6 separate regions of the Homo sapiens genome follow, and regions 2, 3, 4, 5 and 6 are each linked to region 1. Evidence: fine-mapped expression QTL. A gene starts in region 1. Each other region holds a variant in brackets. All regions are shown on one strand. Distances are from middle to middle. Region 1 holds the start of MBTPS1 (membrane bound transcription factor peptidase, site 1). Region 2 overlaps MBTPS1 (membrane bound transcription factor peptidase, site 1). Region 3 overlaps MBTPS1 (membrane bound transcription factor peptidase, site 1). Region 4 overlaps MBTPS1 (membrane bound transcription factor peptidase, site 1). Region 5 overlaps MBTPS1 (membrane bound transcription factor peptidase, site 1). Region 6 holds the start of LOC105371378 (a long non-coding RNA gene).

What was found.
Region 2: its variant is fine-mapped to the expression of MBTPS1 in whole blood (INTERVAL, PIP 0.98).
Region 3: its variant is fine-mapped to the expression of MBTPS1 in whole blood (INTERVAL, PIP above 0.99). The same link has a PIP of 0.9 or more in T cells, esophagus muscle, lung, monocytes, subcutaneous fat and tibial artery.
Region 4: its variant is fine-mapped to the expression of MBTPS1 in monocytes (TOPMed, PIP 0.99). The same link has a PIP of 0.9 or more in T cells.
Region 5: its variant is fine-mapped to the expression of MBTPS1 in whole blood (TOPMed, PIP 0.93).
Region 6: its variant is fine-mapped to the expression of MBTPS1 in neutrophils (Naranbhai 2015, PIP 0.91).

What each region holds. Positions count from the first base shown.
Region 1 is chr16:84,115,388-84,119,387 of GRCh38, forward strand. MBTPS1 (membrane bound transcription factor peptidase, site 1) reads right to left here and starts at 1,555. Exons shown (of 23, transcript NM_003791.4): 1 at 1,348-1,555. MBTPS1-DT (MBTPS1 divergent transcript) reads left to right here and starts at 1,656. Exons shown (of 1, transcript NR_186375.1): 1 at 1,656-3,776. It also overlaps the pseudogene LOC648774. RefSeq lists silencers at 1,046-1,475, 1,876-1,975 and an enhancer at 2,126-2,285.
Region 2 is chr16:84,074,267-84,078,266 of GRCh38, forward strand. It overlaps MBTPS1 (membrane bound transcription factor peptidase, site 1), which reads right to left. Exons shown (of 23, transcript NM_003791.4): 12 at 331-475. Among named protein-coding and RNA genes, the nearest start is that of SLC38A8, 33 kb to the left of the region's middle. The variant A/G (reference allele first, on the strand shown) is at 2,126.
Region 3 is chr16:84,057,413-84,061,412 of GRCh38, forward strand. MBTPS1 (membrane bound transcription factor peptidase, site 1) reads right to left here. Exons shown (of 23, transcript NM_003791.4): 20 at 3,270-3,401; 21 at 1,890-2,016. Among named protein-coding and RNA genes, the nearest start is that of SLC38A8, 17 kb to the left of the region's middle. The variant T/C (reference allele first, on the strand shown) is at 2,436.
Region 4 is chr16:84,089,940-84,093,939 of GRCh38, forward strand. It overlaps MBTPS1 (membrane bound transcription factor peptidase, site 1), which reads right to left. Exons shown (of 23, transcript NM_003791.4): 5 at 3,772-3,882; 6 at 3,249-3,358; 7 at 1,793-1,909; 8 at 936-1,003. Among named protein-coding and RNA genes, the nearest start is that of MBTPS1, 25 kb to the right of the region's middle. RefSeq lists an enhancer at 1,610-2,809. The variant T/C (reference allele first, on the strand shown) is at 1,534.
Region 5 is chr16:84,079,886-84,083,885 of GRCh38, forward strand. MBTPS1 (membrane bound transcription factor peptidase, site 1) reads right to left here. Exons shown (of 23, transcript NM_003791.4): 11 at 1,862-2,023. Among named protein-coding and RNA genes, the nearest start is that of MBTPS1, 35 kb to the right of the region's middle. The variant A/G (reference allele first, on the strand shown) is at 2,364.
Region 6 is chr16:84,781,927-84,786,102 of GRCh38, forward strand. LOC105371378 (a long non-coding RNA gene) reads left to right here and starts at 2,670. Exons shown (of 3, transcript XR_001752293.2): 1 at 2,670-3,389; 2 at 3,486-3,561. The variant G/A (reference allele first, on the strand shown) is at 1,904.

The sequences.
Region 1 (4,000 bases):
CGTGTCTGGGTCAGGTCCCAGCTCCCATTCTCAATCAACAGTTTTGCTGTCATCCGCATCACACATTAGAGCATAAAATAAACTTTTATTTGTCAAAAGTGTTCTGCATAAATGCTTAAACAAAATGTGGTATAGCCATACAACTGAATATTATTTGGTCATAAAAGGAATGAAATCCTGATTCATGCTACAACATGGATGAACTGTGAAAACATGCTAAGTGAAAGAAGCCTGACACAAAAGGCCGCATATCATATGTTTCCATCTGAATATACGAAATAGTCATTAAAGGCAAATCTAGAAAGACAAAGTAGATGAAAGGTTGCCTGTGGCGGGGCCTGGAAATGGGCATTGACTACAACTGGGCATCAGAGGTCTTGGGGTAACGGAAATGTTCTAAAAGTGGATTTGGTAGTGGCTGTGCTGCTGTAAATTTACTAAAAACCACTGAATAGTACACTTAAAACAGGTGGATTTTATGGTATGTAAATTCTACTTCAATGAAGCTCTTACATTAAAAAATAAGTATAAATAATAAAAGCGGATTCTCCAGATTGAAAAAAAAAAAAATGAGAGGAATTACTTCTCTTCTGCAAGCCCTCCTTTTCGTAGACATACAATTGGAGACCTTGACGTTAGGAGGGCTTACCTACACAGTTCAGACTAAAGGATGAGTCTCCAGAATTCAACGCAGGTCGTATTCCACTCCACGTAATTTCGAAGTGTCAATCAGAATCTAATAACTTAATTTGTGTAGACAAATAGGCCAAGATTCTCAGGGGCTCAACCCAATATGAAAGGTAAACATCTTAATAAAAATACTGACGATCCACAACGGTCTTAGGTAGCGCAACCATGCCAAGGCGAGGCAAGATTTTTAAGAAGCTACAGGTTTAAAAGGCAATCTGGTTCTGAGAGTTCGCCGAACAGAATCCCCGCATTTCCAAAAACCAGCAGCGCAATATGCACAGACCGAGATAAGGCAAAGAATCGACGTCTTTTAAACCTGACGCCAGCACTGCCCCGGAAGCGCACCTAGAATTGAGTCTGTCTGGAGGCTCCGGGCCAGAGCAGGGCGTATTGTTTCACTCGGTGAATGCTCATTTCACGTAAAGAAAACCAGGCAACGGAACAAGCTGCCGGAGCGCGCAGACCCCCGCAGGGCCGCGGTACAGGCACGCTGTGTCCAAACAAGCGCCGGAGGCCCCGCGCCCACCTCCCCCGACCCGGCCCGGCCCCCGCAGCCCTCGCCTCGGGGCCTCGGACGCAACCGGCACACCTGAGCGAGCGGGCCGCCGCCGCTAGGCGGAGCGGGTCGGGGAGGCCGCGCGCGGGCGGCTGACGTACCTGCGCCGCCGGGAGCTCAGGGCCGGCGGGCCCGGGATAACGGCGCCTCCGCGGCGAACACGCCTGGGCACTCCATTCGGGGCTGTTTACTCCCAACTCTCGCGAGACTGGGCGACCGGGCCAGCGAGGCCCACAGCTGGGAGCCTCAGCTCCGCCGACCCAGCGTGCCCTGTCTGTCCCGCGCTCCCGGGGCTTGCGTGCGCGCTCTGGACGCCGTGGGCAGCGGGACCACGCCGGGAGGATGGACGAAGGTCTCGCGACATTTGCGGCGGCGGGGGCCGGTGGCAGGGTGGAAGCGGAGGGGCGTGGCCAGCGAGCTGCCAGGCGGCGAGAACGCGCTGGGGGAACCCTTGGTCCGCTCTGCGCGTCGCTCTAGGATCCCCGAAAAGGAGCACGGGCGCGAAAGCGGCCAGGCTGGGCCAGGATCTAGAAAGACTGCCTGGCGCAGGCTCCCTGCCCCCGCGGGCCTGCTGTCATGGACTCGTGGAGAGCTCGCTTCCCGCGCGGACCCTTCCTGCAGGGGTCCACGTCCAGGCACCGGCGGCTCGGACACCCCACCCCCGGCCGGGCACCTGCCCTGGGTGCCCCTTAACCCGGGCGGTAGCTCGTTAAGATGGCGAAGTGTCCGGTCCGGAACACGCGAAACCCCAAATCCCGCCTGCCCGACCTCCTGACCCCCGGCCCCACGGGACGACAGACTGGGCCTCCCGACGCGCAGCGCGCTGCCGGGACACCGGTGCGTGCGAAACGGAGGACCTTTGTAACGCCACGTGTTTGCTCTTTTTGAAAAAACAAGAATAAATGTGTTAAACTGTCTGAAAAGCTTGCCGCCTAAAAGATGTCTGGGTGACTTAGATGCTAGGATCAGTTTGTTTTCAATGTAAATGGACCAGCCCGGACTCCGTACGGCACTAGCAGGGGACTGAAAGCGTCTTCAGGTACTGCTGGTGGGCGGTGATGCGCTACAGGCCGATCAGACAGTTTTGTGTCTTTTGGAACTTGACACTGCACCACGGTAATGCTGAACTGCACCAATATTACAGATCACAGCGCATCATCTTCCTTCAACATGATTTAACACAGTTGACTTAATATGGTGGATAAATGTAGAATCACAAATTACCATACCCCACCTCAGGCTTCTACTTCGTAATTTTGAGCAGGTTGTTTAACCTCTTTGTACCTCAGCTTCTTCATTACAAAAATAGGGGTACTAGCCAGGCGGGGTGGCTCGCGCCTGTAATCCCAGCACTTGGGGAGGCCGAGGCAGCCGGATCACTTGAGGTCAGAAGTTTCAGACCAGCCTGGTCAACATGGGTGAAACGCCGGCTCTACCAAAAATATAAAAACTTAGCTGAGTGTGGTAGCGCATGACTGTAATCCCAGCAACTCAGGAGGCTGAGGCAGAGAATCGCTTGAACCTGGGAGGCGGAGGTTGCAGTGAGCTGAGATCGTACCACTGCACTCCAGCTTGGGCGACAGAGCGAGACTCTGCCTTAAAAATAAATAAATAATTTTTTTAAAAAATAGGGGTACTAATATCTACCTTAAAGGATGAGGGTTAAATTAAGTACACACATAAGCCCTAGCGCAGTGGCTTATGCCTGTAATCTCAACACTTTGGGAGTCTGTGGCGGGAGGATCACTTGAGCCCAGGAGTTTGAGACTAGTCTGGGCAACAGAGACATGTCTCTATAGTTGTGTTTGGTTTTGTTTTTACCAGGTGTGGTGGTGTGCACCTGCAGTCCCAGCTACTAGGGAGGCTGAGGTGGGAGGACTGCCTGAGCCCAGGAGGTCGAGGCTGCAGTGAGCCATGATTGTGCCACTGCACTCCAGCCTGGGCAACACAGCAAGACCTTGTCTCAAAAACAAACAAAAAGCATACTCATAAAGTGCTCGGCTCCTATATGATTCAATATGTGGTGGTGGATTCTTGAATCCTTTCCTGACTCAGATCTCATACGATTTTCTGAACTTTTGGAGAATCCTTGCCTCTCTGCATTTGCAAACCGTCAAAGGCACTCCCTTCTGCCACCACACAAAGCATTTGATTTTAAACTTGACTATGTCCTTCTGTTCCAACTTTAGGTAAATTAATCTTGGTCAGGGTTCTCTGAACAGCCCTTTAGTCACTATGCCATTGAATACATGGCCCTACAGCTGGAAACTGGGGTAGAACAGTGATTGCAGGCATCCATCATGTGACAGCGAGGCCCCAAAGAAGGGGAGAGAATGCCACCACCACCAGTTTCAGAGAATGCCTATACACTGAGGGGACTGGTGTGTGGGAGAGAAGTTACTTGGAGAGCTACCAAGACAGCCTGAGCTACAGGATCCTGGTCTACCACTGGTGGATTCCCACCACTCTGGTTCTAAAATAACTTCCTAAACTTGTGCTTCACATACAGAATAAAGCATCTGTAATTCCATGGGAAGGTAAATCTTTATTCAAATGAAATGTTATTTTAAAGAGTAATAGCTGATGGCACAGGCACTAGCCAACCCTGGGAAAGCCTCCCTGGAGTTGTGGCTCCTGGAGTCCCAGCAGCCACTCTGCAGAGATCTTGGAGGTCCTAGTAAACCTGCCGGTGGCACTACAGGCAGGCTGCTTTTTTGGCAAGGGTGGCTTTGCTGAGAGCATCAAAATCTTGGA
Region 2 (4,000 bases), 41 kb before region 1:
CTCTGTCATCCAGGCTGGAGTGCAATGGCATGATCTTGGCTCACTGCAGCCTCAACCTCCTAGACTCAAGTGATCCTCCCACGTCAGCCTCCTGTGTATCTGGGACCACGGGCACACACCACCATCCCTGGCTAATTTCTTTATTATTTGTAGAGACAGGTCTCACTTTGTTGCTCAGGCTGGTCTTAAAGTCCTGGGCTCAAGTGATCCTCTCTCCTCGGCCTAGAACTTTTCCTTTTTTAACTTCAGCAGAAGTAACTATGGCCTAAAGGTCTGGGCTGTGTCTAAGTTCACCATCAAGTCAGAGACCAAGTCAGAGAGAAGTTTCACCTTATCTACAATTCTTCCTGTGACTCCCATGCCGTTGAGGATGGTGACATTAACAACTGTCGGCATTCCTCCATAGTAGATGGGCTGGGAGCAGTAGGGCCACATGTAGGGACACTCAGTCAGATCTATGTAGCTGGGGCTCAAACTGAAATAAAGAATACAGTGTTAGAGTAGATCATATGAGAAAACTACAATGAAGCAACACAACTGTACAAGACAGAGTTAACAAAGCAGACCTAGCTTCAGAAGGGCTTGCTTACAGCGCTGCCCTAGGCTGGCATCTGGGAACTTGGCTCTGGAATGCTCCTGCACAGATAAGGCCTCTGTGCCAGCCTGCTGTCTATACAGACAGTGTGATGTGCAGGGACACCTCTGCTTTTGCAAGTCTGGAGCTTTGGGAGTTGTCACTGGCAGAGAATGAGTACGTGACCAGCCCTAATGGAAACTTGGACTTGAGTCTCTAGAGGGCTTCCCTGGGCAAAAACACGTACACATGTCAATGCAGCTTGCTGCTAGGAAAGGGGCCAGCTCTGTGAGACCCTGCCTGGCAGGAGAGAGGGGAGAGCTTAGGAAGCTGCGCCTGGATTTCTCCAGGCTTTCTCCGTGTGAGGCATCTTTTTCCCTTACAGAGCCGCTGTGCATCCTTGCTGTGCCACTATAATGAATCTTAGCTGGGAGTATGACCACAGGCTGAGTCCCGTGAGCCCTAAAGCACCGAGCCTGGGAGAGGTGCTGGGGACCCTGACATAATTTGTGTCAGAAGTGCTGACACAAGTGCTCTGGCAATTATGTTGGTTTCATGGTTTCCCCTTATCTGAACTGAGTTTGTGTTGGGTTCACATCACTCCTAGTGCAGCAGCGGTGTCAGCTACGCCCGAACAGGTGAAAAGACAGGAACAGACAAATGTTTCAGACAAGACGTGACCCACGATGGCCTCCCTGAGAGCACCAGGCATACGTGGATCCTGCTTCTCAAGCTGCACCCACGTGCAGTGGGCGGGCGGCTCTGCGCAACTGCTTCACCTCATTACAGGAGATGCCAGCCTTTCTCAAACAGCAACTACGGTATAAGGAGTACTTTTTATTAGTTTGTAATAACAAAGATGTATCTGGGCCAACTGAATTGCTATTTAAGAAACCAAATGGAATATCTTTAGGGATACTGTGACTTTCACAGGCAGTTATAATCAACACATATCACAGTTAAGTTATCTCAACAGATACCACCTTCACAAGTCTGAAGTTCACCAAAAAAAGAAAAAGAAAAGGAAATAGGTACTACCTAGTTTTAAAAATCCTGAATGGATCGGCCATGTGACTACAATTGTATGCATCAGCAAAGGTATCTGTTCTACTTGAAATGTGTTTGTAAACTTTGCTGGTAATTGTGCTCTGTAATCAGTTTAATTCGACTACTAATTCAACATGATTTAACTAGGAAACCATTATTAGCAAACAGAATTCAACATCATATTAAGAAAACAAAATAGCAAGACCAGTGGCATTTATTACAGATTGGTTCAATATTGGGAAACTCATTAATATCATAAACCATATATATTAATAGGTCTAAAGTATTCATATGATTACCTTTCTAGATGCTGAAAAAACATACAAAATTCAATCCACAGTCCTCATGAAAACGCTCAGAAAAACAGCACTAGACAGATAATCTAACACAATAAAAAATATATACATATATATATAGATATACACACCTTAGGGATAAATCCAGCATCTTACTTAACGGAGAAATACAAGAGGCATTTCCATTAAGATTAGGAACAACGTAAGG[A/G]TAGCCACTCTCTCCCCTGCTGTTCAACACTGTGCTAGATATACCAGCCCATGCAACTAGACAGAAAATAATCAATGAAGCCTTAAGAATTGGCAAGGAAGATGTAAAACTATCTTTATTTCCATATGGTAGGTTAGTACACCTGGAAAACCCTAGAGAAGCAATAATAAAACTAACTCAAACAATAATTCAGATAGGTAGCAGCATATAAAATTAACATATAGAAATAAAATCAACCAGTTAGAGAATATACAAGAAGAGAAAGCCCCATCTACAGCAGCAACAAAAAGATTAAATACTTAAACTTACCAAGAAATGTGTAAAACCTATATGAAGACAACTGTAAAACCTCCTGGAAGACACACAAGAGCAAATGGAAACATATCCTTTGCTCTTAGACAAAATAACAGCATTATAAAAATATTACTTCTAAGTTCATTTAAAATTTGATGCAATTGCAACAAAAATTCCAACAAGCTTCTTTCATAGAATTAAGTAAGATGATATGAAAATTCATATGAAGAAAACAAACATGCAAGAATAGCCAAGAAGGGCCGGGTGAAGTGACTCACGCGTGTCATCCCAGCACTTTGGGAGGCCGAGGCGGGAGGACGGCTTGAGCCCAGGAGTTGAAGACCAGCCTGGGCAACATGGCAAAACCCTGTCTCTACTAAAAATAGAAAAATTAGCGGGGCATGGGGGTATGTACCTGCAGTCCACCTACTTGGGAGGCTGAGACGGGACAGTCACCTGAGCCCAGATGGCAGAGGTTACAGTGAGCTGAGATCATGCAACTACACTCCAGCCTGAGCCACAGAGCAAGACCCTGCTGCATTAAAAAAGAAAAAAAAAAAAAAAAGAGAGAGAGAAAAGAAAAGAAAGAAAGAAAAGAATACCCAAGAAAACAACGAAAAAAAAAATTACAAGGGGAACTAGCACTAACAGATATTAAAACATGCTATAAAGTCTTTATAATCAAAACAGTGTGGTACCAGTACATGGACAGACAGACCAGTGGAACAGAATGGAAAGCTCAGGGATAGACATAATACATATGAAAACTTAGTACATAATAAAGACAGTATCTCAAATCACTGGGGCAAAGATGGACTTTTTAATCACAAGAGCTTTAACAAATGGGTGGCCATTTGGCAAAAGAAAAAATTACATCCCTACCTCCAAACAATACACAAAAATTAACTCCAAATGGATCAAGGAATTTCAAGTAAATAAAAGAAAGCAAACAAATATTAGAAGAAAACACAGGTGAATTTCTCTTTTACCTCCCTCAGTGCAGAAAAAGACTTTCTAAGGACTCAAAATACAGAGGCATCAGCTGAAGAGTAACAAATGTGACTATTAAAAAACAACTGCATGGCAAAAACACCTTACACTAAGTCAAAAGACAACTGACAAAGTGGCAGAAAAATCCGCAACATGCATCCCTGACGGAGGGTTACTAACACTCATATATCGAGAACTCTAAAGAGGGACCAAAAACCCCATTGAAAAAGAAATGAACAGACAATTCACAAGAAAGCTTAAAAAAAAAAAGCTCTTAAACATGGACTTAGGTGTTCAAACTCACTCATAAATAGAGAAACACAAATTAAACAATACTGAAATACCATTTCTTACCAATCAGATTTGTAAAAATAACAAGACAGAGCACTCTGTCAGTGAGGCTTTGGGGAAACCGGCACTCACGCACACTGCTCACGCAATACCAAAAGGCACAACCCTTTCACAGAGAAACAAAGCAATGCCTAACAGAGCTACCCGATGCTCTCAACGCTGACCAGCAGTGCTACCTTACCTAACAGAGCTACCGGGCGCTCTCGACCCGGACCAGCAGTGCCACCTTACCTAAGTTAC
Region 3 (4,000 bases), 58 kb before region 1:
AGCAGTCATGGTAACAGTCCACACCCATTACCATGTGGGTGCTTTACAGCATACTGACGGAAGGACTGAGGAGCCACCGGAGCAGGAGTTCCTCTCAGGGAGGACGCTGACACTTCCACAGCTGCCCTAGGTATGGGCACCTGATGCCAACGAAGAAGCCCAAAGCGCCTCTCCACTTCACAGATGGAAGCCTGCCCCCAGCACTGGGCTGACAGCATCTGGAGCTGTCTCCTGGTCTCAAATCTCTTTTGGAGACTCAGAATATGCGTCGATCTAGGTCTCTGGGGACCGAGAATAATTTTCAACAAGATATGAAAAGCAAGATAAATGTAAAACCCAGCAGCGTACTGAGAAGAAGGAATTACTGAGTGATTGTGAAAATCAAATTCCAGGAGCTGTCCATTATCAACATGCTGGATGGGCCGGTTCAGTATGTGATGGATTATTTGATGTGAACAGGTAGATAGCCAAGGATAGAAAGGATATTGTTATCTGCTTCAAGTCCTGAACAACACTGTGGAGAATAATTGGGTTTCTGGAAATTCAGCTAACACTGTTCACTGAGTATGAATTGCTGACCATGGCTGGAATATAAATGCTGGTTTGAATGCTAGGCTAATAGAAGGTTATAAATAAATAAGATGCAAAAATGGAAACTTATCAGAAATGTTTAAATGATGAGATGTGAACTGGAATGGAAAAGTACCCAGTGATTAAGGTTCAGGAAGAAAGCTACTGATGAGACAATGTGATGATTCTACCATTTTCCTGTGTTCTATTAAGCATATTCGAAATGAAGACATACGGTCAGTGCGTGGTGTGTTCAGCACTTTCGGTTTATGATGAGGAGTAAAGGCGGAAGGCAGCCTCGCCACCTTCACACGGGCACTCTCCTCTTCGCCTTACAGGACGGAAGGTGGCCTCCGTCCCTGGCCCCATACCATCACTGGAGGAAAAGAAGGCAGGCAGGGGGCCTGTCAAGAGGGTAGCCTCCTGCCTGAGGGGCTGGGGAGAGGGGCCGGGTACCAGGCGGCCAGGGGGCCTCGGAGGGCAAGACTCCTGCTTGATGGGGTGGGAGGTGTGCCTGCCCGGCCACGGACACAGCTCTGACAGCTGTCCCTGGCTTCATCCCCTTTCTCAGGAGAAGCTCCCCCTTTCTTCTTATATTGTCCTGTTTGGGCCAGGGACGTCACAGAAAAAGTAAGGGGGTGGCATCTGGAGAAAAAGGGGACCAGCCATGCCGAGCTGGTCCTAGCCACAGAGGGAAACAGCAGGTCCACCTCAAACACTGGGTACGGAAAGGAAACGATGCAAATGAAGAAGCCGAGTTAGTGAGCTGGAGAAGGGATCCAGGCGGCACTGCAAACAGGAGTGTGGAGACAGCAGCAGAGGTCACAGCCTGCCATCGGAGGCGGGTGCTTTCACCCCCAGTCACAGTCAGCACAGGACGTAATGACACAGAAGCATGCTCTTCTTGGACAGGCTGCAACCGCGGCCCCCGGGGATGACAGAAGAAGGGAACTATCTGTATCTTATCATCAATGTCTGAAACAGGGAACACACTGCAGCCGGCAGCTCTTAACTCCCCAACCACAGGACTTAGAGCTCCAGCTCCCATGAAATCACTCTGTTGGATCCCAGCTTTTTAAAAAAGAATTAACCAAATGTAACAAAATGCTAATTATCCAAAGCACTTTTTATGCAGGATACCACCAAAGAGCCTATTTCCAAAGGCCAATACGAGGTTCACTAAATAACTGTCGCAAATGACAAGCTTGAAGATCTGACAATTCGATAGTGATGTCAGTAAAATTCCATTCTCTCCTATAAGAAAAGCAATGACTCACAAGCCCCGTGGAAAGAGTGGAAGGGCACAGGCGGACACTAACCTGGGCGCCGTCTCGTTTAAAGGCTGTGGCTTGGCCCAAGACAAGCGTGGACAGGCTGGTAGAGGCCGAGGTTTTGGGTCTCCCAAATGGGCCTCCAGAACCTTGGAGTACCGATGAAGATGGTTTCCTGTGGTTAGCAGCAACATCAACAAAAAGGAAAATCATCTCTATTACTAAAATGCAAAGGAAAAAGGAGGGCCTTATTATGAGTCTGTCTGCTTTCCCACAACACAGCACAGAGCCCCTGTGCTCTATTAAGCTATCCTCCATGAGCCGCAGGAGCCACGCCTGATTGGTTCCTCCCGGACAATGTGTGTTTCCATTGCTGAAGGTGGGTGAGAAAATCAGAACCGTTCCCTTGAAGATGGGCAGATGTGTGCACAGCACTGGCTGGTCAAACTTTGCTGACCACCACTGACACACGCAAGGCTACACCTGCGAAATCTAAGCTACAGACCGGTTTCATGGAAAAAATACTTCTCTTCTAAAATATTTAATTCTCTGGCCAAATAAAAAACCACTCTGCATTTTCAAAATTCTTTCTAT[T/C]TCTTAGATCTGCACCATTGTGCCAACCACACGTAGCTACTGAGCAAGTGAAATAAGGTATCACGTGTTTAAATTCTAATATTCTTCATGTCTTGGGCTCAAGTATATTATTAAAATAGTTTCATCTGTGTTTCTTTTTACTTTTTAAACGCAGCTCCTGGAAAATTTTAAATGATGCCTGTGGTTCCCATGAGCCTTCTACGGGCAGCGCTGTAAGGACCAGCACACCAGGGACTTAGACGCACTGATACCCACCCCACTAAGTGCCAAGCAGCTGGCGGCCCCACGGCACCAGCACAGGCCCCAGAGGCGGGTTGAGGCTCCACCACCACATACCGCCCAGGCGATCTCAGGCAGTTATCTAATTTCTCTCAGCTCTCATTTCCTCATCTGGAAACTGGGAATAATAACATCTATTTTCACAGGATTACTGAGAGGGGACAGTGAGGTAATCCATGGGAGCATCCCAGCCTGCTGCATGGGACCTGGCAAGTGCTCTAGAATGTTGGTGATTCTTCCTGAAGATCTGTAGGAGCCACTGTCCTCACCTGTGAGAGCGGGACGGTAAACACACTCAGAGTGGCGTGAGGGTCGGGGTGCACGTGGGAAAGCAGCTGCACACTGGGTCCTCGATCATGGCCCTCTGGGGACTAAGGATGGCCTCTCGGCAGGTTAGAGCCGCTGAGTGCTGCTCTACCCGCAGCCATTACGAAAACCACTCAGCGGCGCACACAAACTGGCCCCACTTGCTGGCAGGCACAGCCACTGGCTGAAGTAGCATCATGTTCAGCTGGATCCAATTCCCTCCCCAAGGCATCCTGCCCATCCACTCACCTTCCATCCTCTCTGGAGTGACTGAGCCTGCTCCACTGGGAGGGCGCTGGCGGTTCCCAGAGTGACTGAGGCTAGGCGGTGTCACCCCATACGATGTGTACTGGAGGAGGGCATCCAGAAGCCAAAAGCAGTCTGCGAAGTCAACAAGCCTGTTTAGGAATTCCTTTTTTTTTTTCCAGACAGAGTCACGCTCTTGTCACCCAGTGCAGTGGCGCAATCATAGCTCACTGCAGCCTTGAGCTCCTGGGCTCAAGTGATCCTCCTGCCTCAGCCTCCCAAGTAGCTGAGACTGAAGGCACATGACAGCATGCCCGGCTAATTTTTTATTTTTTGCAGAAATGGGTCTGGCTGGTCTCAAACTCCTGGGCTCAAGTGATCTTCTTGCCTCAGCCTCCCAAAGTGCTGGGATTATAGGTGTGAGCCACCACACGTGGCCCGGAATTTAGCTTTTAAGAAGAAATCTCTAAAGGAATTTTTTTTAAGTTAGTCCCCAAAAGTGGGGGAAATGGGAGTTCAGAAGTCACGAGTTTAGGTCAAAGTAAATCCAACATGTTCCAGATTCCCCTATTCTCATAAGACATGCATTCTCAGTGGCCCAGCCCAGCCAGATAAGCACACACAGCCATGACCTGACCAGGGCTCCACTCCCAGTGCCCCAGGGTTCCAGGTGGTCAGCACCACTGTCCACCAGGTTGCACCAACTGCCTGAGTGCCACACTCAGCTCCTCATG
Region 4 (4,000 bases), 25 kb before region 1:
GCGAGGGTATGTTCATGCCACTTACATCTATGGCTCATGATACGTATCACTGATGCGACAGCAAAATCCAGAACCCTGGACCTCTAACAAGGTTCACGATCATTTACTCAACTATTAGGCTAGAGTCCTATGAATGCCAATATTCACGTTTTCTGATATGCAAACATGAACTTCACATAGCTTCACCTTGTCTTATGCCCTGGATTTGTGTAAAGCATCCTACAGAAACTTCGAGCACAAGAAATGACTTATAAACATTATCTAGAGAATAAAATGAAGCTGCTGGTGGAAAGAAAACTGAGACCTCTAACCAGACAGGAGCGTACTGGCTGGGATTCAGTGGCAAATGTTTCGCATCTCACGCTGCTTAAGTTTAGCACAAAGGCCCCCCTGTGACACTGTCCTCCCTGCCTCCCTCCTAAATGATCCCTCTCATCAACTCCCAAAGCACCGGCCATGTTGCCGTTAGGCCCGCCAGCACTTCCCCTGTGAATGAGTGTCACTGTGCTCGCACCTGCTCTTTCAGAGAGAGGCAGAAACCTCTTCCGTTTGCCTCTTTACCCGGATGCTTTGCACACAGATCTCATCAACACTGCAGAATCCCTAATAGATTCACTTTTCTGATTGATTTTTGGGGAAAAAAAGTAGTTAGAATAAAAACTTTAGGCCTCTAAATTACTATTTGTAACAAAATTTTAAAAATATATAAATAGAAGGAAGACCGGCCTTGAGGTGACAACTGCTGAGGTGAGTGGTGAGTACCTGGGTGTTCATCTACATCCTATAGTATTTTTTTACATGAGGAAAACATCCTTAAGACAAGTTTTAGACAGACATAAACAAGTAACCATAGGTAGATACACAAACAGATAACAATTTTTCAGTTATTTAAGGGGGAAAAAATCCCCGAGGTCATCCCTGCTGGGGCTACTTACCCATAAAGAGGTCCGTCATTGCCAATAGCAGAAACCATGATTACATTGTTAGCTGTTAATTCCCACACCTACAAAAGGAGCATTTATTTAATGAAAGTATCCCTTTCATTAAACATATAACTGTCAAAAAAAAAAAAAAAACCATACACAACGTCTAAAAACAGTTCTAAAAAAGCAGCACTGGCCCATTATAAAGGCGGATGTGCTGGCAACTTGCATTTTTAGAGGATACCACCCGGGACGGAGAAGCACGCAGTGCACAGAGCAGATGCTGACTTTCTAGTCACTTTGAGGAAAACACGAATTGCATGTTTAGGTAAGAAAGAATTGGCAGGGCATGGTGGCTCACGCCTGTAATCCCAGCACTTTGAAAGGCTGAGGTGGGTGGATCACCTGAGGTCAGGAGTTGGAGACCAGCCTGGCCAATTCGGTGAAACCCCGTCTCTACTAAAAATAGCAAAATTAGCCGGGCATGGTGGTGTGCACCTGTAATCCCGGCTACTTGGGAGGCTGAGGCAGGAGAACCGCTTGAACCTGGGAGGCGGAGGTTGCAGTGAGCCAAGACTGTGCCATTGTACTCCAGCCTGGCCAACAAGAA[T/C]AAAACTCCATCTCAAAAAAAAAAAAAAAAAAAAAATCAGCAAGGCACCATGTGCTCCTTATCAACACCTACTCTGAGGCCTCTAACCCACTCAATTTATGACATGCAAATCACTGAAGCTCACGTCATTAGCCATCTGTTCTCACAAAGCTGTCACCACCTGGATGAAAAGCCACCAACACACTAGATATGATGCAAAGTTGGGCTGCGAAAGAGCAGGAGCTGTCACCCAAACCCCGTGTGCAGTGACTCCACAAACCTTGTCAACAAACGGATGATCCATGAAGTCCGGGCCGCCGATGCTGAGGTTTAACACGTCGATCTTCTTTAAAATGGCATAGTTGAAGGCGTCCAAAAACCAAGATGTGTAAGATACCTAGTTAAATATTATAACAGTCTGCTTAGTGTTTCAATCAAGTTTTAAAGTGCTAGGACAGTTTTTATTTCTAAGGCTCTTTTAAAATTACAAGTAGTTCTCTTAATTTTTTTTTACTTAAAACCAGAAATGAATCCTGAGCATGCATAATGCTCTGGAGAGTAAAATACAACACGTAGAAGTTCTAAGTCCTTGGAGCTGAACCTAAGGAAGAGGCAGCTGTGTTCTGCAGGTGGCCTATCTCTCTAGGTGAAATGCACAGCTCTCTACACAAAGAATGCCTTCCTAGATAACACCCAAGCTCCCAACCGCCCCTCTCCTACAAAAGGACTTATCCCAAGGCACTTCTATTAAGTTAAGCATTTTGGAATAGTTCAACTTATCTATCTAACCTTCTTCATTCCTAAACAGACTGAAGGACAAATGGCAGCAGTAACAGTTATTTCACAGTATTAGTCTTCTGATGTTCAAGTGCTCCTATGTTCCTTACAAAAGCTTCATTACTTTGTGGATCACCTTTAGCTGTTGCTTTTTTAAAAAATATAAAATTAAGTTTATGGTAGGAAGAGAAGCAATGTAATGATTAAGATTATGTTTTTAAAGGTTTTTAAAAGACCAGGTACTTATATTTTCTCATATACACCAAAGAAATTCTACGAGGAGGTATAAGAAAGGAACATCATCACACAGGACACACGGGCCAGTGAGGAAAGAACCTGCTGGACGGGGACAGGGGTGGGGGTCTCACTGTGTTACCTTCTGACATTTCTGAGCTATGCATTACCTATTCAAAAATTAACCTTAAAAAATAAATAACGAAAAAAGAAACAAATACTAGGACCCTCTCCCTTTTCTATAGTTTCCAAATGAAGAGTGAAGGAACAAGGCTTGTAAACTCCCATTACCCAACACAATGCCAGGTGTCGGGACACAGAGGTAAATAAAACAGCTCAAGGTGGTAGGAACCCAATCAGGGAGGCAAGCACACTTATTCTATCTGCAATTGTTCTGTTCTATCATGCAGACAACCGACCCAGGGTACAGAGGCCTGGGGAAGCCTGGAGGTAGAGAAGAAACAAGGGAAATCAAAGAATCGTCGTAAGTAGTAGCCTCGGCAGGGTCTTCAGGGTTCAACTTAGGTCGACACAGTGGTTGGTGGGAGAAGGGCGGAGCCACCCAGGAGGCAGAGGAACAGTAAACTGAGCATGCGTGCTGCAGTATGAATGGCTCAGCGTCACTGACGTGCACTCCTTTTACACAAGTGTGTACAGTCCAGTGATTCTGCTTTTTACATTTCAGTATGAATTCCTCAAGTTTCAGGAGTCCTCAAAACACCTACCTGATTATTGGTAAAGACCCTGAAAATGTGAAGTTCTGCATCTGGAGCAAATCCTTGGCACTCCCTCATGCTGGCTATCACACCTGCCACGAATGTGCCATGGCCCAACCCTGCAGTCCATAAAGAAAACAATCCCATAAAACACACTGAATAGCAAGTGCCAGGACGCAACATTCCAGGCCATGAGTTCCACGGCCTTCCATTTCCAAGTGCTGGATAGAGGAGGGCCTCTGCTGCTGCTCTACGATCCCCTTAGACGTCACTGGCACAAGCACCCCTTCCAGGTCTAGCCACTCCACGCTCTCCGGGACAGGGAGCTGCCCCCACACCAGGCATGCCCACTCTCTCCTGAAGTGCTACCTCCCGACATCCTATGAGGTATTCAGAGCAGTTTCTGCCACAACAAAAAGCACAATAACACCTTGGGCTTGTCTGAATAATTGCTGGACAGACTGTGGAATCATGCACTAAACACACTCTCAGTCGATCACATGACCACGTTCTCACTGCTGCTGAGACCCACCATCGTCCAGCGTTCGCTCGTTGGTCCAGTTGGTTCTCTCCTTCACATTTTTGAAGTGGGGATGCTTCTCGCTCAGCCCAGTGTCAAAAACAGCAACTCTTACATTAGCACCTTATTCGGAAAAGAAAGCAAACACAATTATGTTTGAAGAAATCATCATTTTGGATTTTGCCTATAAAATACATTCCTTCCTGGGACCCACAGAAAATGACATATTGTGGAAGGCCAA
Region 5 (4,000 bases), 36 kb before region 1:
CCGAAGAGCGCAGTAACCACTGTGAGCACAGCAGCTTGGAGCACCCCGAGTGCCCAGGTCTTGATTTCTTTAGAAGAGGCCATCAGCAAAGAGCTGCTTGGAGACAGAACTGATACCAAGGCTAGAGCACAGAGGTGCATGACAGGACATCCTGTGCTGCCAGGAAGACAGAAAGTGCTCAGAAAAGGCTGGACACATGCTGAAAACACACATAAGCCAACTAGATGGAGCTCCCAACAGCCAACTCGGGGACAATTTGAACGACCCACTAAATGATATTAATTATAATCCACAGAGTAAAATAAATATCTATGTGTCCACACTGATGTAAAGAACTGAATAAATAAATGGGACAGAAAGGACAGCTCTTCCTTCCAGGAGAGTTCCAATTAATCAATGTAAATGGAATGAAGGAAAAAGAAAATCATCACGTGTCAAAGTTGTCAGGAGTAATCACCAAAGGCAAGAACCATCAAGGCATGCTAACATGAGTGAGTGGAAGTATGTGACGAAACAAGGCCATCTCGAAACATGCCCCCACAAGACACTGAGAAGTCACAAAGGAAACACGGGCTGCACAGTGGAGACACCTGGCAGGAGCCACCTCTGGCCCCACAGGGCCAGCAGCTCAGGTCTCCTCTGCAGGACACTGCTGGCTGACACCCGCAGCTGCCACCCTCAGGTCCTCACACGTCTGTGCCAAGGCCACGCTTCCCCTGGGGCTGCTCCCAGCCAATGACTAAGCACACAGGAGGCACCAGGGCAGGCCCATTCTGGGGGGACACAGGACTCCTCCAACAGGCAATCTGGTTCAAGGATTTCCCATCAGCCAAAACTTTTTCAGGCCTGTGCGAGCCTCTTCCTCCCCAGTCCTCCTAACTTTTCGGTGTCAGATCAGCACTGCAGTTCCTGCCTATTCCCACACCCTTCCCTTTATCCTTCAGAGGCCCTCACTCCCCACATATCTTTTGAACATGTAATCCTAGCTTGACGTCTGCTTCTTGGAGGACCCAGACTGACAGACCACATTAATCAAATGATGAAAATGAATACCCCCAATAACAAGATGAAGGAAAACGGAGGAACCGTCTGTGATTAGAGGAAACCAAGAAGACAGGACAATGAAATCCAATGTGGGATCCTGGACTGGATCCCAGAGAATGGACCTGTGGGACAATGGGCGGAATCTGCGTGAAGCCTGCAGGTCAGTCAGCAGTGCTACATCAAGGTTCATTTCCAGACTCTGACGCTCATACTGAGGTTATGGAAGATACTAAGGTGAGGGAAAGCTGGGTGAAGGACTCAGGGGTTCTCATGAACTATTTGTGAAACTTTGCTGTAAATCTAAAATCATTTCAAAATAAGGGTGAAAACAAAGCAGGGCCCAGGCCGGACGGGAGTACCACAGGAGCTGGCGAGATGTATGTGGTCTGCAGGTGAATTACAGCACAGTGTCAGTGTTTGTATGACAGTTTTAACAGCTGTACTCCACTCATCTGAAATGGTGGCATCAGGGGAAACTGGGCAACCTTGTAGGACAACTCTCTCCTATTTCTGCAAAATTTCTGTAAACCTAAGATTATTTCAAGAGTCTAAGAAAGTAAACAACAAAAGCAAAAAAACCACTCAGAAATCATTACTTTTAACCATTTATATTAAAGATCACATCAGTAAGCGAAAGCAGCTACCAGTTCTGCCAGCAGCACCCTGTAGAAGCAGCAGCAAAACCTCTCCAAGCACCCCGAGAATTCTGTGCTTAGTCATCATTTTCTGTTTTGAGGCTTGTATTTTGTGCAGAGGGAAAATTCGCCCAGAGCCCAGTGAAGGAGAGAAAGACCCATCGGCAGGGCGGTGCACTGACCTTGCCTGTGGCTTGTAGCTGTTGAGGATCTGATAGGCTCTGAGCAGATCGAGCTTGCCGTGGCCTTGCTCAAACATGTTGACCCCGGGGAGCCTCCGGGCTGACGCGATCAGGGCCTGCTTCATACTGGCGGGATTCACCAGCTCACGCTTCTGGACTGTGCTGGAGGAAAAATCAAGAATTGCCTATTTTCTCTCAGTAAAAGAATGGAAATTGGACCACTAAAACCTAACCTACAAACGTGCACACAAGAGGCCTGCAGTCTTGTTTAGTATCCAACAGGTGCTTGTCTGGCACAGCCTGCATGAGAGAATGAGTGCACACTCATCTCTGTACCCAATCCAGGACTGACCACTCCGCAACCTTCTACGGGACCCACTTATGCTAAATGCATCAGTAACACATATTTTTGTGATAATTCAACTAAACAACCACATAGGCTGCAGAAGGCATGAATGTATAGGAGGTACTGACTCCTCTGGGGAGAGGAAGCCTGCTGGTC[A/G]CAGGAAGAAGATGCCATGGGACACCGCCTGGCTGGGAGAAGGAGGAGCACATTCAGATCCTGGGGAGGGGCCACGACACAGGACTAGCAGGAGGCACAGGTCTGAGTGAGGACCGCCGCCTCCAAAGCCAATCCTTGCCTTTTTGTTTCCAGATTGGGAGGCTTGTCTGGGATGAGCCACCCTGATGGATGATGCCTTTCAGAACGACATAGACCTAAGGCCACCTTCAGTTTCACCATGAGAATGCATCTGAACAAGCTTTAACACACAGTGTGACCTGGCTAGGAACTTAGCCTGGTGATACTAGCGTTACAACATCCATTTTTGTGTATTTATGTATTATAAATACAAGTGAATTTTAATTCCTAAAATTGAGGTGGGAATATCAGTACACAAAAAAGGAAAACTTAACTCTCCTAAGTTCCTAAATATTCGTATGTGATGATGTTTGGTGTTGGAGTCTAGGCAGGTTTTCTAAATGGGAAATCTGACATAAGTAGAGGAGATAAAGTAGATTCTTAATGACAGAAGAAAAGAAGTGCTCAAAGCTATGGGTCAACAATCTTCCTCCTCTTCCTGCCTATAAAGTGAACTCAAGGGTTGCGTTCCACTGCCTTTCACAGCATCATCAGGCTGGAGCTCGGGAGGCCCGCCACTGCTGCTCGGCTTCCATTATGAGCGACTGTCACACACAGAGATCACAACGGCAGTTTCATCTGCTGCAGGGAGATGAGGAGACTGAAAGGCTTCCTTGTTGCTGAAAATATCTGTACTTAAAGAAGCTGCTGGGAAAAGGAACAACCCCTCGGCTGCCCGCTTACTCAACAGCAGAGAGCTGACGGGCTCAACAGTGAAGGCAGAGCCCTCACTTCCTGCTAACAATCATGGCGTTTAGGAGAAATGAACCAGTATTTTCTGTTTCCAGAATCAACAACATTAGAAGCTGCAGCCCTAACTGAATTCTCTCCACCTGGCAAATACAAGTGTGCAAACAGGCCAGGTAGCCCACTATCCACCTTCCCTCCACTCTGTTCCTCACTTGATATAACACTGGAGAGAGGAAAACAACGGCAAGAGAAGACAGTGTTTCCAGCAAGCACATGGTTATTCTCCAAAGGCCAGTCTGGCCAATGTCAACATTCTCAAGAATTTGGCTGCAAACTGTAAGGGAAGAACAGAGAAAGGAGGAAAGAGATGGATATCTACCCCTTTTTTTTTTTTGGTAGAGATGAGGTCTCACTATGTTGCCCCAGCTGCTCTCAAACTACTAGCCTCAAACAATCCTCCTGCCTTGGCCTCCCAAAGTGCTGGGATTACAGGTGTGAGCTACCACAACCAGCCAAGTATCTAGCTTTATTAAGGATTACTAACAAAATAATATCTGGCATCAGAAGCTGAAATCAATATTCAATTTACTTAAAGAGAACTTAAAATATAAAGACATTTAATACTATTTGCCTATATTAATTAATTTTTAAATTAGCATAGAATAACTTCCAAATACGCAGAGTTTTGTGTGTTATCACAACACTCAACTAAAACTTCATCTAGATAGAAGAAGTACAATTTATTTTTGGGGAAAATACAGTAACAAGATAAATGCCAGCCCCAAAGACATCCTTTTACAACTGAGAGT
Region 6 (4,176 bases), 670 kb after region 1:
CTCCTCAGCCTGCAGACGGCCTACTGTGGGACCCCTTCTTGTAAGTCAATACTCCTTAATAAACTCCCCTTTATATATACATCTACCTATAGGTTCTGTCCCTCTAGAGAACCCTAACGCACAACGTTTCCATTTTATGTTGCAACGTTTAATGTTTTTGTAAGTTTCATAGTACGGTCTCCTAACTTTAGGTTATTTACTTCGGGAACTTTGCTCATTAACCTTGGTGCTGAGGCTACAGACTTAGTGATTTTCCTTCATTATCATTTAACATGCCTTTGTAGGTGGCATTTAAAGCAGTGAATGGTTACATTTTTAGTATGTTATAGGGAGATTTTCCTCGCATTTGTCAGTTGTTGACAACAAGACTTGGAAGTTCTCTTACAGGGAAGATGTCATGAAGTTTACCTGGTTGGTATGTTATTTGTCCACTAGCCAAGGAAGCGCAAGCCACTGTGTGTTTGAGGCAGGATGGAGAATGGAGGTCATTCTGGCCTCCACTGGTGTAACTATGGTTCAGCCACCCAAGTGGCTCACAGTGGCATTCTGCTTTCATTTCTCTCTCTCTCTCTTTTTTTTTTTTTTTTTTTTGAGATGGAGTTTTGCCCTCGTTGCCCAGGCTGGAGTGCAGCGGTGCGATCTCAGGTCACCGCAACCTCCACCACCCAGGTTCAAGCGATTGTTCTGCATGTGCCACCACACCCGGCTAATTTTGTATTTTTAGTAGAGACGAGGTTTCACCATGTTGGTCAAGCTTGTCTCGAACTCCTGACCTCAGGTGATCCAGCTGCCTCGGCCTCCCAACATGCTGGGATTACAGGCGTGAGGCACCGTGCCCAGCCCCTGCTTTCATTGCTTGATGTCATTGGTCATACCATCCTAGTCTAATGTGTGGGCAACGTGAGCAGGAACTTTGCAGTCAGCAAAGGCATCATCTTAGAATGTCTTTTATTTGGTGACGTTTCTGATTATTGCTGTCATAGACTGCTTATACTTGACCAGGCCAACTGGTTACAAAGTGACAAGCATAGTCCAAGTCAGTGGCTTTTGAACTATGGGAAATAACCCAATAAACCAGTGAGCTAGTATTGTACAGCCAACTCACGTTCATGAGTCAATGAGAATGAGCAAGTTGTAGCAGTGTGGACACAGCAGTCTCTTGGCTTCATTTCTCTTGGGAAGTGCTGAGTGCATCAAAAGAACTAAAAACAGCAAGAGACAGAAGACTCACAGTTTTTCTGGTACTTCTCTGGCTCAAGAAGGAAAAATATCTTGACTGAGCCTAGTGAAGACAGTATCTCTATACCAATTTCCTGAGGGTCAGTGGACTTAAAAGAGATTAGACCAAAATGTTAGTGTTTTTAAAATCCGTGTCTAGCAAGGCCAAGTGGTAATAGCCAACTCTACACGAAGTGTTTTGTGTTTCCTTTATTGTTTTTTGTTTGTTCGTTTGTTTGTTTGTTTTCTGAGACAGTCTTGCTCTTGTTGTCCAGGCTGGAATGCAATGGCATAATCTCAACTCATTGCAACCTTCACCTCCTGGGTTCAAGTGACTCTCCTACCTCAGCCTCTCGAGTAGCTGGGATTATAGGCACCTGCCACCACACCAGATAATTTTTGTATTTTTGGTAGAGACGGGGTTTCGCCATGTTGGCCAGACTGGTCTTGAACTCCTGACCTCGTGATCCATACACCTCGGCCTCCCAAAGTGCTGGGATTACAGGCATGAGCCAACACGCCCGGCATGTTTTTCCTTTAAAATCAGTCACAGCAAAAGTCACCGAGCAGACACTGTTCTGCCTTCTTCAGACATTTTCTCTGGCTTCCTAGGAATTGGGGTTTTTTTTGTTGTTTTTGTTTGTTTGTTTGTTTGTTTGTTTTAGTGTTATTCATCTTTTAGACT[G/A]GCCGTTCCCATCTTATTTGCACCTTTTGGGGAAAAGTTAACTTGCTCGAAAATGAAATGCACCCGATGGCATCTGCTGGCTTTACCTCATGGTGATGTTCCTTTATGAACTAGTGACCAAATGCTTCATTCTCTTTTCTGATTGTTTCCCTCCCTTTGCTCATCCCCCACCTCAGTAAGACATGTTACATCATTTTAATGAGCAAGTGTACATTTTTTTCCAGTGGGACTCAAATTGTACGTTTGCTTCTTGGTCGTACATGCATTTTGTTTCACGGATTTAGTTGTGTCTCCTGTTGTTCTGTGGTCAGGATACGGGATCATTTGCTAGGCACTGATTTGCTGAACACAGTAGTATTTCGTTGAGTGGCCCTTCCTTGGAAACAACTGGCAAGTAAGCAAACCTGGAAATCACTGTTCTGTGCTGTATTTTCAGTAAAGGGAATTTACACAGCGCTTGCTGCTGTGGGATTTGCAAACTATTTTATTTTGACTCTAGGATTTCACACAGTGATATGCTTAAGATATTTTTTATAATTTTTTTTTTTTTTTTTTTTTTTTGACAGAGTCCCACTCTGTAGCCCAGGCTGGAGTGCGGTGGTGTGGTCTTGGCTCACTGCAACCTCCGCCTACCGGGTTCAAGCGATTCTCCCTCCTCAGCCTCCCTAGTAGCCGGGATTAGAGGTGCACGCCACCACACCCAGCTAATTTTTGTATTGTTAGTAGAGATAGGGTTTCACCATGTTGGCCAGGATGGTCTTGAACACCTGGCCTCAAGGGATCCACCCACCTCGAATTCCCAAAGTGCTGGGATCACAGGTGTGAGCCACCGCGGACGACCTATAAAAACTTTTATCCCTTTCATTTTCTCATAGACTCCCGTTTAAGTTCTTGCTCTGTTTTGGGGGAAAGTGTTTATTGTTTGATTTTCTAATAACGAAAACATTAGAGTAGCTTCATTTATGCTGCCTGTTTCAAGCCAATACACTGCTCAGTTGTGTTTGTGTATTTGAAAAGTCCCCTGATAGGAACTTTCTGAGGGGTGCCTGTGTTGTTGGCACATTTGAGAACTAGACAAAATCTAACTCTGTGTCTTTTTTCTTTCTTTTTCCCCTATTATTTGGTTTTGTTTTTTTAACAACCCCTCTGGAGTGTGTTTTGGTTCATGGGATCAGGCCACGTGCCCTGGTTTTCGAGGTATAGCCTTGGCTTTCTTGGGTCGGGTCTAATAACCCTGACCTTGGACTTCCCACGTGTCCTTCAAAGAAAGCAATTATTTTTGCCTATTTTCTGAGTATGATGGTATTCTCCATTTGATTTAACAAAAAAATTCTTCCTCTGCTTTAAAAGACTGAAAGCCTCCCTGTAAGGTGCTGATTGCCTTCCAGATCTGAGGACCCCGTCTCTGCCTCATTCCTCCTGTTTCCATCAGAAGACACAGGTCTGGGACTCAGCGCAGCTGACCTGTCTGTCCCTCTCTGCACAGGTAACCACTTATTTATTGCTGCTTAAAGTAGAGCTTCTGATACCCATGGGGCTGGCAAGAGACCCTGACATTCTTGTCTTATTTTATCACATACAGTTTACTCCTGGGCTCTGCAGAGAGAAGTCAGTGCCTCAATTTTCCATTGAAATATGCACCCTTGGCATCCTGGCAGGTGAGCGGCGCCCCCTTAGGGCTAATACAGTGACATAAAATGTGTCATATTTTTGGCTGTGTGGTGGCTCATGCCTGTGATCCCCACACTTTGGGTGGCTGAGGCAGGCTGACTGCCTGAACTCGGGAGTTGGAGACCAGCCTGGCCAACATGGTGAAACCCCATCTCTACTAAAAATACAAAAATTAGCCAGGCATGGTGGCATGCACCTGTAGTCCCAGCTACTTGGGAGACTGAGGCAGGAAAATCCCTTGAACCCGGGAGGCAGAGGTTGCAGTGATCTGAGATTGCGCCACTGCACTCCAGCCTGGGCGACCGAGTGACACTTGGTCTCAAAAAAAAATTAATTGTCATATTTTTGAAAAAGTATATTAGCTTTGCAATGAGTAAAGTTCACTCTCTAGGAAGATGTCCCTGTTTCCTGTGGCTACAAATGCTCCCTGCCACACTGGGAGGCCGCACCTCACTGCGCCGGAGTGCAGTCTTCAGTGGGGTCCTCTGCTGTGACCGAAAGAAGGGTGCAGCCGGGCCTGCTTCCAAGGCTAGGGTCTGAGACCTGGAGTGTGTCCATGGATATCAGATGTTGAGCTACAGGGGACCGGCAGCCCACAGCAG